4 separate regions of the Homo sapiens genome follow, and regions 1, 3 and 4 are each reported to be linked to region 2. Evidence: microRNA targets listed by miRTarBase, many of them from high-throughput screens and not tested one by one. Region 2 holds a microRNA gene; each other region holds the end of a gene's coding sequence.

Evidence for each region. Region 2 holds the annotated microRNA hsa-miR-503-5p (UAGCAGCGGGAACAGUUCUGCAG, at 814-836, shown strand). A microRNA usually pairs through its seed, bases 2 to 8, with sites in the 3' UTR of a target mRNA and lowers its output. Matches are read on the target gene's strand: a 7mer-m8 pairs with bases 2 to 8, a 7mer-A1 pairs with bases 2 to 7 and ends in A, and an 8mer does both.
Region 1: miRTarBase lists CLTC as a target of hsa-miR-503-5p. Seed matches in the 3' UTR shown: 7mer-A1 at 835-841.
Region 3: miRTarBase lists RFK as a target of hsa-miR-503-5p. Seed matches in the 3' UTR shown: 7mer-A1 at 1,148-1,154.
Region 4: the mRNA of PLEKHA1 is a reported target of hsa-miR-503-5p. Seed matches in the 3' UTR shown: 7mer-A1 at 1,918-1,924.

What each region holds. Positions count from the first base shown.
Region 1 is chr17:59,693,227-59,696,381 of GRCh38, reverse strand. It overlaps CLTC (clathrin heavy chain), which reads right to left. Exons shown (of 32, transcript NM_004859.4): 32 at 1-2,654. The coding sequence ends at 2,530. Among named protein-coding and RNA genes, the nearest start is that of PTRH2, 13 kb to the left of the region's middle.
Region 2 is chrX:134,544,051-134,547,206 of GRCh38, reverse strand. MIR503 (microRNA 503) reads left to right here and starts at 809; the gene lies at 809-879. MIR503HG (MIR503 host gene) reads left to right here and starts at 577. Exons shown (of 3, transcript NR_024607.1): 1 at 577-655; 2 at 2,410-2,493. It overlaps MIR424 (microRNA 424), which reads left to right and starts at 496; the gene lies at 496-593.
Region 3 is chr9:76,384,603-76,387,758 of GRCh38, forward strand. It overlaps RFK (riboflavin kinase), which reads right to left. Exons shown (of 4, transcript NM_018339.6): 4 at 924-2,927. The coding sequence ends at 2,797. Among named protein-coding and RNA genes, the nearest start is that of RFK, 8.2 kb to the right of the region's middle.
Region 4 is chr10:122,429,570-122,432,725 of GRCh38, forward strand. PLEKHA1 (pleckstrin homology domain containing A1) reads left to right here. Exons shown (of 12, transcript NM_001001974.4): 12 at 55-2,776. The coding sequence ends at 369. Among named protein-coding and RNA genes, the nearest start is that of MIR3941, 14 kb to the left of the region's middle.

The DNA.
Region 1 (3,155 bases), not on the chromosome of region 2:
TATAGCACCATCTCAAGGTCTAAGGTCATTGGTGGAGTATTGTGGGCAGAACACTAAAGACAGCCTTGAAATTTCTAATATTTGATTCATTTAATACACTTCGCACAGGCATATGACAGCACAGGAGAAAAATTGCAACTGTGAATGATGCCACAATAGCAACTATTTCTAAACAGAATGTTTACTGGCTGCAAAAGTGATGCAACAAAATGCAACGTTAAGACTGAGTTGAACTCAGTGCTAAGTGCATGATTCTGGCTCAGGTAATTTCTGAGGTTTGCCTCAGATAGACTGATGGCTCCAAATTCAAAGGTAGTGGCATTCCCAACAGGATGGCATGGGGTGGCTAAGTAACTGTCATGGCATATCTACTAAAAGGAATACTATGAAAATTCTGGTAATTGTGGATATATGCTTGTTTTCTAGTTCATCTGTACTTGGTATTTTATAGAACTCATAATCTTATAGTTTTCAAAGTATACTCTGCAGAACCCACAGGGTCTCCACAGAGTCAATGTTTTCATAATACTATTATTATTTTTTTTTTCTCTGTGTTGATATTTGCACTGAGGGTGCAAAAGCAGTGGTGGGGAAAACTGATGGCACCTCCCACAAATCAAAGCAGGGGCACCATTGTATTCTTCACTGACCTGCACTCACATTAAACACTTTCACTTAATGTCCTGGATGAAACTAAATAGGTTTTTTTGTTTTTTGAGACAAGAGTCTCATTCTGTCACCCAGGATGGAGTGCAGTGACGTGATCTTGGCTCACTACAACCTTTGCCTCACAGGTTCAAGTGATTCTCATGCCTCAGCCTCCTGCCTCCTGAGTAGCAGCTAGGATCTTATAGGCATCCACCATCACACCTGGCTGATTTTTTATTTTTAGTAGAGATGGAGTCACCATGTTGGTCAGGCTTGTCTCGAACTCCTGGCCTCAAGCAATCCGCCTGCCTCAGCCTCCCAAAGTGCTGGGATTACAGGCATGAGCCACCACACCTGGTGGGACAGGGATTTTAAGTTTTAAAAAACTCTTCTGTGGAGCTTATGTTAGGTAATTTGCCTAAGAGAGTTGTAAAGCAGTGCAAGACTAACTAGGCAAGGGGGTATGTGTAGCTATTGAGGATTAAGGGATAGTGAAATGAACTTTAGGAACATTCTCAGCCATAAGCAAGAGCTGGATTCACACAACCAATTTTTGAAAAAAATCAAGATACCCATAATTTGGGCACCTTTATAATTCATGATGAGAAAGAGCATGTTAACTACATGTTTAAATATATTTTATTTCAAGTTAATATAACAGCCATGATTTGTTCATTTAAGTGAAATGCTTCGATAAAAACCTCGGTGTCACTTGGTTAAAATATTGGAGACAGATTAAATGTTAAGCCACTATAGTAGTGACTCTGGTTCTTTAGACTATTGCATGTACCTTGTTAATGAACTACAGGAATGCACATTGATATAATGCACAATGTCTTCACATGTCTCAATCCTCATTCCTCTTCCTTTCATGCCTCCCTAATGCCTCAGTATCCAATATAAAACTACAAAAACTACTGTTCTTTTCGTTTGAGTGGTATTTAATTAAAACTTCAATTCTATGTTATTTCCACAGTCCAGTAATTTATTTTAAATTTGAGTAATTTCAAATTCCACAAACAAAACTGAAGAACAGCAATATTTTGTTTGAATTTCTCTCTTCTGTACACTCAGTGATCTAAAACACCACAATATCCAACATACACAAACCTCAGGGAAGGGTTAGTAAACACACACAAGATTGGAATCATGGTGCTCTTTGCTCCTGAATGGAATGGTCCCACAGAAAAAGCACAGGATACAGCACAACATAAGGGCACCTGTTACATATGAAGTGAGCAAAACATACTAGCATTTTCTATATGCATAATGGGGAAACCTGCATAGGTTAGAGGGCCTTTTACGCTCATTTAAAAATCAGGCAAGTTGTCTGTAACATTTTTCAATAATCTGGGAAGCACTGCAATCCAGTGTACGATGTGCTGATTAGTGTTGTCTTTGTTGGCACTGACAGTCTTGCATGGTCATATGCCAGTGTTTTTGCTTTAGCTTTTCTTTGAATAAAACAGATTTAAATGCATTTAGACAATACGTATTTGTAAGCTGTTTACATACACTAAATTTAAGAGATTCAATATTAGAGTTTCTTTGTTTCTTTAAACACTACAGAGTGCAAATCAGGTTCTTCACAACAGATTGAATATTGAGCAGTTCTTTAAAGAAAGAGGGGGAAGAAAAAAAGCCCAAGTGAATAAAACATTGAAACTATTCCCCTTCGAAAATAAATTCTAAAATGATGTGGAATGTGAAATAAGGTTTTAACATAGGTGATCCAAGTTTATAGTTAGAAACAAAAAGAAGTCCTTCATGAAATAAAGGTTACAAGAACACGTTGCCTGTTTTCCCCCATTATAAACTGAGAAGTGGGTAAAGACGATGTTTCAGTACGAAAATAGGTGACTACAGGATCAGCGCTTCATCTCACATGCTGTACCCAAAGCCAGGCTGTGGCTGTCCATACGGTGGTGCGGTATAACCATAACCAAAAGGTGCCTGGGGAGGGACGGCAACACTGGGTCCTGCTGTCAGCATCAACTGGGGCTGACCTACAGTAGAAGAAAACAAAAAGGAGCAGGGGGCAGGGGCAAGGAGGCAGGACAAACTGTTAGCATTTAGAACACTCCAATCTCCTCCACTCTAGCAACATAATCTCAACCTCAAATGAGTTGTATGGGGGGCACATTTGATTGCTACAATTTTAGCATGACAGTCTTACTCTAAGAAGGTTCCTACCTAAAAAGCCAACAAACAGTGCAGGGCCAAAGGCCAGAACTGCTTATGACTGAACACCGTATGCCTGACACTCTGTATACTTGACACATACCTACATGCATATTACACTTCATGACACAATAAAATCAGCACAATAAAAGAATTTTTTAAAAGACTTTTTAAAAAAAAAAAAAAAAAAAAGAATCTGGCTCTGTTGCCTAGGCTGGAGTGCAGTTGTGTAATCTCGGCTCACTGAAACCTCTGCCTCCTGGGTTCAAGTGATTCTCGTGCCTCAGCCTCCCGAGTAGCTGGGATTATGGGTGTGCGCCACCATG
Region 2 (3,156 bases):
TTGGTTATTTTCTTTCAGTCATCTGAGTCCATTTCCAATAAAGGTTGTTTTTTTGTTTCGTTTTTTGTTTTTTTTTAATGGGGACAATGAATGAGACTTGTAATATGCAGCAGGAAGAAGTTTCACCAAGACTTTGAAACTGGCAAGAATGATCCAGATGTCCAATTGCCTCTACTTAACCTTATTCGTCTACCTTCAGAAGTAATTAGATTCTCTTCCACACTAATTCGTATCCCCCATCGCTCTGCTTTTCACCCACTACGTTGTTCCAAGATTCATCCTCAGGGGAAAAAATTGAGAGCCACACTTTCGGCTCCACCTGCAGCTCCTGGAAATCAAATGGTGAAGTTATAAGAAGTACCTTAACTTGGAGTGAAGTGGCCTAGTCATAAGTTTTGCCCTATTCCTTGCCAGGGGGTGGGGCGGGGCTTCCTTCAGTCATCCAGTCTTTATTCACCCGCAGGTACCCCCAGATCGATCCCCCTTCATTGACTCCGAGGGGATACAGCAGCAATTCATGTTTTGAAGTGTTCTAAATGGTTCAAAACGTGAGGCGCTGCTATACCCCCTCGTGGGGAAGGTAGAAGGTGGGGTCTGCCGGACGCGTGTTCCTGCCACCAGGTGCCCGCTCCCCGCGAGGCCGGCTCAGGAGCAGGTAGGTGGGCGGGGGCTCGCGTCTCTGTTTCCGGCGGGTCCTCGCCCTTGTCCACGCAGCAGGGCTGTAGTCCGGGGAGGGCAGTATTCCTGGCTAGGCTGGGGCGCATAGGCGGTGCGAGTCGAGGAGAGACGCGGTGCCCGCGCTCAGCCGTGCCCTAGCAGCGGGAACAGTTCTGCAGTGAGCGATCGGTGCTCTGGGGTATTGTTTCCGCTGCCAGGGTAAGTCTGGGACTGCCGTTCGGGCCTACCCAGCAGGTAAGTCTTAGGCCATCGCCTGCGGTGTCGGCCCCGGGAGCAGCGAGACCCAAGATTGCATCAAACGTTTGCCCCGTCTCTGCATATGTGACTGGACGTGAATGATGCTTCATTTTGGCACCCCCTTTCCCTGCTCAGGTAGAATGTAAACAATTGAAAAAAATCCCTTCCCAATCAGAATACCACCCACAGGACAACGAAGAAAACCTATCTTCAGTCCCCACCCACGAAATGCTGGGGGGTGGGGAGGACTGGAAAAGGAGTAAGGGGAGAGGAAGGGTGAGCAGCTGCAAGAAGTCTTTACACCTCTCTGCGGTTCCTGGTAAACGCGCTCATGTCCTGGGTATGGAAGGGACTTAAGAATTCAGGAAAGATCAAAATAACGGGCCTCTTCCCCACTCCCTCGCCCTCCCTTCCCCGCTGCTGGGGGGTTAGGGAGGCTCCGTGGAGCTCCAGCACTCTAGAAGGATCGGGTGAGGCGCGAGGCCTTGCGGGCGGGTGAACCCAAGGTGGGGTGGAAGGCTCCAACCCGCCCAATCTGAGCCCGAGGCCTGCTGAGAAGCATGGGGGCCTTGGGATAGTTCCAGAATGAGGATGTGCGTTTCTAGCTGCTTTGCGCCCTCCTCCCCCAAAAATCTGCTACCACAATTCCAACCCGGCGGCACGCCCCCAAGACTCCTTTGTCGCCCCAGGGGCGGGACCTGAGCTGTCGATTTCAGGAGCCCTTCGTGACTTCAAAAGTCCTGGGCACTGTTGCTCATGAGTGCTGCACAACTGTCGCCCTCTAAAGCCACCTCCATCCCTCACTGGGCTGGCCTCCTGAGCCTTCGGTGAGGAAACGGGGTTCCGAGTTGCCCGCCTGAGAGCTTAACAGTCTGACTAGAAAAGGGCTAATTCGCTTTCTGTGCAAATCTCTTGAGCTAATTATTTAATCTGAAACATGGACAGGTAAAGGACCATTGGCGGGCGTGGGGAGGGAGGTGTGGAATCTTTCCCACACTTTTTGTCACCTTAAAGAAAAAAAAAAGACACCCAAACTCCTCTGGTCTGAATGGGCTGCCTGGAACTGGGCTTCCCGGGGCCAGGAGTGGGCCCCTAGAAGTTTCCCAGTTTGGGGTGGGGCCGGGGTTCCGAAGTCTAGAGCTGGGAGTCGGGTTCAGCGGCCCGAGACGCTGGCTCTCCCAGACTCCCTTGCGCCGGGGCAGTGCGCGGGGGCGGCTCGGGTCCCTCCCGGGCCGGCGGGGACCCTCAGGCTCCCGGGGCGCCGCCCACCAGCCCGACCCGGCGGCCTAGAAATCCCCATTCTGCTCCCGCCTCGCCCCGGCCGGCCAGCGCAGGGCCCCTCAGGCCCGCAATCTCCAGGCTCAAACGGCGAACAGGTCCCCGCATCCGCCTGCCTTTGCACTTGGGGGTGGGAGAGCCACCTTGTGACGCCCCTTCTGCCTCTCACCAGCTTCCCCCTTTCTCCCCGTCCTGTACGGTTCCCCCTGGAGCCAGAAGGAAGCCCGGTGCCAGCCAGCCTTCCTGAAAGACCAAGCCCGCGCCATCCGGCTTCCTCCAGTGGACGCCTGCAGGACCCAGGTGAGACACGGAACCGGTTGGGGACGCGAGCCAGGGATCCTGACCGGTTGGGGGCGGCGAGCAAGGGATCCTGACTTGGGGGCGTTGCCTCCCGGAATCCAAGCGGCCTTTTGCCCGGGTCTCCCGAGATGCATCGAAATTGAGCTCGTCCACACAGCCCCCTGACTGCGTGATGCCCTTTTCTGACTTAAAACATTCCTTGTACCTTTATTTACACGATCCAAGTTGCAGTGTGCCTAGATTTTCCTCCAAGGACAAAAATGTGAATAAAGCAATATTTTAGCCAAACATTTCTGTGTCAATTAAGAAGATTGCAATTCGTTCCAGACTATAAATTCTCTTTAACAACTCCCTAAGGTATTCTTTTAAATTGTTTTTCAGCGTTGCTAAATGTGCATCATAATGTGTGGGAGACTTGTATAAAGTGAATCAATTTATACTCAGCTGATTAATTGACCCGATGTTACCACCTCCAAGGAGGCACCTTTCCACTATTTTCTCATTTTTTCCCCAACACATGTTATTTGTTAGTGAGGAAGCTGCGTGCACGTGGCATTGTATAAAGTTTATTAGACAGACGTGGCCCTTAAACTAGGAAGAGCTTAGTCTAACTCTAAATCTAAAATTCGACATTTCGGTAAGTTGTGAGACAAGATACCCAGG
Region 3 (3,156 bases), not on the chromosome of region 2:
CAATTATCTGCCCAATTTTTACTTTACTTTAAATGTTAATAGAGACAGGATCTTACTATGTTGCCCAGGCTGGAGTGCAGTGGCTACTTACAAGTACCCATAACAGCACACTACAGCCTTGAATTTCTGGCCTCAAGTAATCCTCCTGCTTCAGCCTCCCAAATAGCTAGGATTATAGGCACATGCCACAGCACCCAGCTGCCCAATTTTTATACAACACCTTGCCATTTTACCATTTTTGTTACTCTTTTACTTCATTACACATATTAAACAGTCATTTCAAATTCTATATCTGATAACCCTGGATCTGCCATCTCTGTAGAGCTTATTTTACAATTTGTTTCTGGCATCTTTTTTGGCAGAATAGGTTAGTTTCTTGGCTCCATCTCTGAAGACCAGACTTCCACTTCCATCTCCCAATCAGAATCATGTTTCATGGTAAGCTCTAACTGCAGGCTGTAAGCCTCCATAGTTGAGGAAGATGAGAGTTCTGGGGATGACTGTTCAAAGAGTACCAGCATGCAACAGAGAAAGGCAAACGAGTTCTAAGTTGCTGCTTATGGGGTTGGTGGCAAAAGACAAGAAGGTTACAGAACTCTGTTTTGGGGCAGGAGTTATGCAAGGGAACCCAGACCTATCTATACTCTTCTGGCTCTTCTATCTCCAAAATGTAACAGGAACCCTTACTCTCAGGAAGTGGACTTTAGTAGTGATGCCCTGTGATTGCTCTCCAAATAAACCTCAGTCACTGTGTTGCAGGCATAAAACACAGGGGATCCTGAAGGCAAGGCCCTTTGTTGTAGAACTACAGCTGCCACCTATATCTTGCTCTTCAGGCAACTTCACACACTTAAGAGTAGCAATCAGCCAACAAATTCGAAATACATAAAGTAAGATTCAAGCTGACACAGGGAAAGAAAAAATATCACTTAGTCAAAATTTATTTCAAGGCCTGAAAACATTCAGACTAATCAAAATGGTACTACTGTAACTTCTTATAATACATAATATAAAAGTTTTTGAAAGATATAGACACAATTAACCCCTAAACAACACACTATCTGATTCTCAAAAGCAATGGCTATTTAACAAGATGTAAAAGGACAATAACATATCAAAGAACTTTCACACACCTAAAGATAGCATTTAGCAGCAAGTTAGTCAGACAAAACAAACACAAATATTTTCACATTTCCTATGTTTGTTTTTAACTTTACTTCATAAAGCCACTGATAATTGAGGTTTCTTTCAAGTATAAGATTTCTAAAATTAAAAACTGTTTTTGACATATTTTTATAAAGAAATAAAAAGCAAAACGCAATCCAACTATTTATATGAGTCCCTCTTCTCCAACAGCTTTAGATGTTTTTCTGAGTACTTTTTACACAGAATATTTTTATTAAAATCAGTTCTAATTCATTTATGCAGATTAGGGGAAAATGATTCATAATAAATTAACTTTAAAATTACCTTCTATCTGCTTCTACCTCTATCCCCCCATCACCACCAAATCTGTTGCTACAGTGAACTGTAGCAATGTACTGTTTGAGGGGGCCCAAAGCATCTGTAATCTTAATTTCCCACATATTAGTTAGTAGGAGGAAAAATCCACAGTATGAAGGCTATTTAACTAAAACTTTATGCTTTTCCCTCAAGCTGTAAGTACTCTTTAGCATTAAATTACATCGTGCATATACAACTACACCCATTTAGATTTGCCTTGGAATATAATTTCAAGGCCTTAAATATTAAAAATAATTTTATAACTATTTCATAGTTTAATTGGCTCTTAAATAGTTTTGCTAGGGAGGAAACATTTTGTGTTCTTTAAGAAATTGATATGTGTAAATGTGTTCACTTAAATCTTGAGAAAACCTAAGGATGAAGTCTGTTGTTTTGTTTTTCCTAAAAAAGGAAAAAAGAACCAAAGAAAAATGTTGAAGAACAAGAATATTTACCATTAAAAAGAAGAAACATTATCCAACAAAAAGGAGACATATAGATTTGAAAACACTTATTTTACTGTCTTCAACAACAACAACAAACAGATAGGCAGGGGAAGTCCAGAGGACTCAGAATTGAAGCAGCTCTATACAATAATGAAGGTGGTACAATGATGTGACTGCAAAGAAAATGACTAAAACAAAACTTTACAAACATCTTCATGTTTGTAATGTATTAATGCACAAAATATCAAAAATAGAAAGTCTGAGTTTCTTCCCCGCAGGTTTATGATAAACTATCAACCTTCTATTTAATGCATTTCCTTTTTTTTTATTTATAGAGATGGAGTCTCGCTATGTTGCCCAGGCTGGTCTTGAACTCATGAGCTCAAGCAATCCTCCCACCTCGGCCTCCCAAAGTGCTGGGATTACCGGTGTGAGCCACTGCACTTGGCCTTAATGCATTTACTTTTATAAGCCTTCTCTGTTTAGAAGTACACACTACACAAGTACATACATGCTGGCATTTTACCATGAAAATTTTAGTTTTCATCTCAAACTAGTGACTTGCCTTTTTACCCATACTTATACACATGTAATACCTTTCTAGTGGTACATTTTAATCAATATATATTTTTTAAATCTTATTTTTAACTCAATCTTTTTAGTGCTATGATATGATGGGCTTAATTTAATAGTTGAAGCATGATATGATAACAACATTGTACGGTTTAAACTAATTCACAACTGTAGTAAAGTGTTTGATTTTCAGTATATAACCAAGATGATGCTGAACAGTAATAAACACAGAAACACTAGAAAACAGTGAATGAATAAATAATACAATTTTTCATCAGTGGCCATTCATTATTTTGCTTTTAGAAACCTGGAAGAAATTGTCTTCTTTGATTTTCAAATGTTCTGGTAACTCTAGTCGTTTCTTAGCTTCTTCAATATCACCTTGAATTGCTGAAATAAGTGACTCTGCAGAGAGAATATACCAGGTAAAAATGATGAAAAACCATTAACATACTTTTTACTACTACTCTGTTTAGCCAATCCTAAAAACTCACAGGCTGGCAGTATCTCTGCACAGGGTAGATACCCAATAAATGTTTGTTCCATCACTCCTTCCAGGCCTAAGTCAATGGTACACAAAAGATATGTCCCTAGGCCGGGGGCAGTGGCTCATGCCTGTAATCCCAGCACTTTG
Region 4 (3,156 bases), not on the chromosome of region 2:
TACTAACCTGGTCATGAGTGACTGACCGTGTCTGACTGCCACTCCTTTTTGCAGGAGCATCCCCCCGGTCCTTCAGAATCCAAACACGCTTTCCGTCCTACCAACGCAGCCACCGCCACCTCACATTCCACAGCCTCTCGCAGCAACTCTTTGGTCTCAACCTTTACCATGGAGAAGCGAGGATTTTACGAGTCTCTTGCCAAGGTCAAGCCAGGGAACTTCAAGGTCCAGACTGTCTCTCCAAGAGAACCAGCTTCCAAAGTGACTGAACAAGCTCTGTTAAGACCTCAAAGTAAAAATGGCCCTCAGGAAAAAGATTGTGACCTAGTAGACTTGGACGATGCGAGCCTTCCGGTCAGTGACGTGTGAGGCAGAAGCGCACGGAGCCTGCCTGCCTCTGCCGTCCTCAGTTTCCTTTCATGAGGCTTCTAGCCAAAGATGATAAAGGGGGAAATGGTTTTTAGTGCGTATATTATACTGCCTCTTAGGTGTACTCTTTATAAGCTGGTAAACCAAGAATCTAGGGAGTGGCCAAACTAAATATAATTTCTTTAAAAAAGAAAGAAAAAGGAAAAATCCAAAATATCTCAGTATCATCTGTCTGAAGCATTGTGTGTTCTCATTCGGGTGGTAACAATGTATGTGTAATATTTTTTTCTTAGTGATTTTGACAGTTTAAATGTTTAACAACTTAAAGCATTAAAAATGCTTATTAATAACTTTGGTCATTTAAAAAATGCTACAATGACTTCCTATTAAAGGTTCAATATTTACACATTCTTATTGGTTGATATTACCACATGAAATATTGCCAGACCAAGATACCTAAACTCATGATGTCTGTGGTGCTGTAAAATTTATACTAAAATGTGGACTATTTTGAAATTATAACCATTTTTGATGCCCTGAATCTTGAGGTGACTTATTTTGCATAGAGGATATGGATAGACCAACAGTAAGGGTTGTGGGTTATACCGGCATAGAGAAAAGAAGAAAACTAGAATTGAAACAACTGTGTCTTAGACATTTGTTTGAAAAAGCTTCATCAGGCCTTGGAGCAGTCACTGCTTTATTCCGCAAAAATTATTTGGTAGGAAATTTTTGGGAGATCTGATTTTCTTATCCAAGTTTTGTAAATAGTTGTTATTTCTATATTTGGATTGGTGAAAGACCTCAAGTTTATATGTAAAGACATAACTGCCCTTAGTCATGAAATTGTTGTGACCTCTACTTTTTGTCACTAATAGCCTACATTCAAGTGCCTGTGTTTTTTCATCTTGTTTAGGAATGTTTTGAGATTAATGTGCTTAAAAGTCCTACGTGACTGATTTTAAACATTGTGATAAAATTAATTTTCAGTAGAATAGTTGAATGTGTTAAGATAGGATTTTATGTTAGAGATACCAGAATGCTGGTATTCTACTACTTGTGCAATATATATGTTTTAAAAAACAAATTTGAGAATACATTTAATCATAGGGATATAGATATAAGCACCTCTCTAAAGAATCTTTAGTTTCCGACGTTGAATTATAGACCAGTTTGAGTAAGTACTGCTTTTTTTTTTTGGAGACGGGCTCTCGCTCTGTTGCTCAGGCTGGAGTGCAGTGGCGTGATCTCAGCTCACTACAGCCTCCACCTCGTGGGTTCAAACAGTTGTGCTGCCTCAGCTTCCCGAGTAGCTAGGATTACAGGTGCATGCCACCACACCTGGCTAATTTTTGTATTTTAGTAGAGATGGGGTTTCACCATGTTGGCCAGGCTCGTCTCGAACTCCTGACTTCAGGTGATCCACCCATCTCAGCCTCCCAAAGTGCTGGGATTACAGGCGTGAGCCACCATGCCCGGCCCATAAGTACCGTTTTTGAGGTTCAGTCTTAAACATTTGCTTTAAGAAAACAGTCTTGAATTTCACATGCTGCTATTTTTATATTTTGCCATTTTACAGTACTGTTTTGTTTTGAATTCATGCATATCATTGAAAATTTCTCGTTTTCATTTTCTTAGATGACTTCTTGTCTGAGACAGAAAAATTTCCTACTACAGCAGTGCAGTCCAGAGGTTAAGATGTATTAGAATTATACAATATCAGTTTAAAAATCTGTATGCATAAAGAATGCACCACTCAACTTTTTTATTCATAAGCTAATATTTTTTTAAAGTTACATTAAGATTTTTTCTCTTTTGCAGCTACATTTGAAAGTGATAGAATAAAGAGATTTTAATGAGTTATCACTTTTTCAGCTGATATATTCATTTTAATGGCTTTTTTGAAAGTTCCTTTTTCATGAACACACCCGAGAAATCTTAAATAGACACTTTGCAATATTTAAGAACCTAATGCTGTTTAATTTTGGTACAGCTTCCACATTGCATGTTCACTTTAGTATTTGCAATTTGATATATTTCATGGTGGCAAAATATTAGCTCTGTTTTGGGACATTTTAAAATAGAACTATCCTTGTTCGATAGCATAGGAAAATGTTCTGGTGATTGTCAGGGTCTCCTAATATTTATCTCAATTCTTTTATAAGTCTATGGAAATTATTTAATTATTTTAAAACGTACACACTTTTCTTGTAAATATGTCACATCTGAGTTCAAAAAAATTACTTTGAATACCTTAATATTTGCTGCATTTTTTTCCGTATATATAACATGTCTTCTTTCAGAATGGGAATATATGTGTGCCTCCCAACATTTACTGTTAAAGTGTGTTATCTTTATATGTCAAACTGGTTGAACACTGTAATGAGAATAAACTGCACAGAGTTTATTCTGACTTATTTCTCATTTTGTTTGGTTCAGCCCTTGTGTGATGAAGTAAATACAATGATTAGGGGTGTGTTTGGTTAATTGACTTCAGTTTACATATTTAAGGACAGAGTAATTATTTGGTCATCTTTGCAAGAATAAGAAACTTCAGATCTGTGAATTCTTAATGCATCCCTGCATGTGAAATTATAGAAGGAAAAATGATTTTTTTTTGATAGGGGAAAGAACTTGCTTATTTTTCTTAATTAAAAAACATGTTCTCAAAAGCAGAATTATCATATGTTAGCCTCAGAGCATCGTGTGGATCATCTGGGCTGCTCACAGTGCTCCATGATTATTTAGACGGCATGATGTAAGGCGGAAAGCAGAGGGCATCTTAAT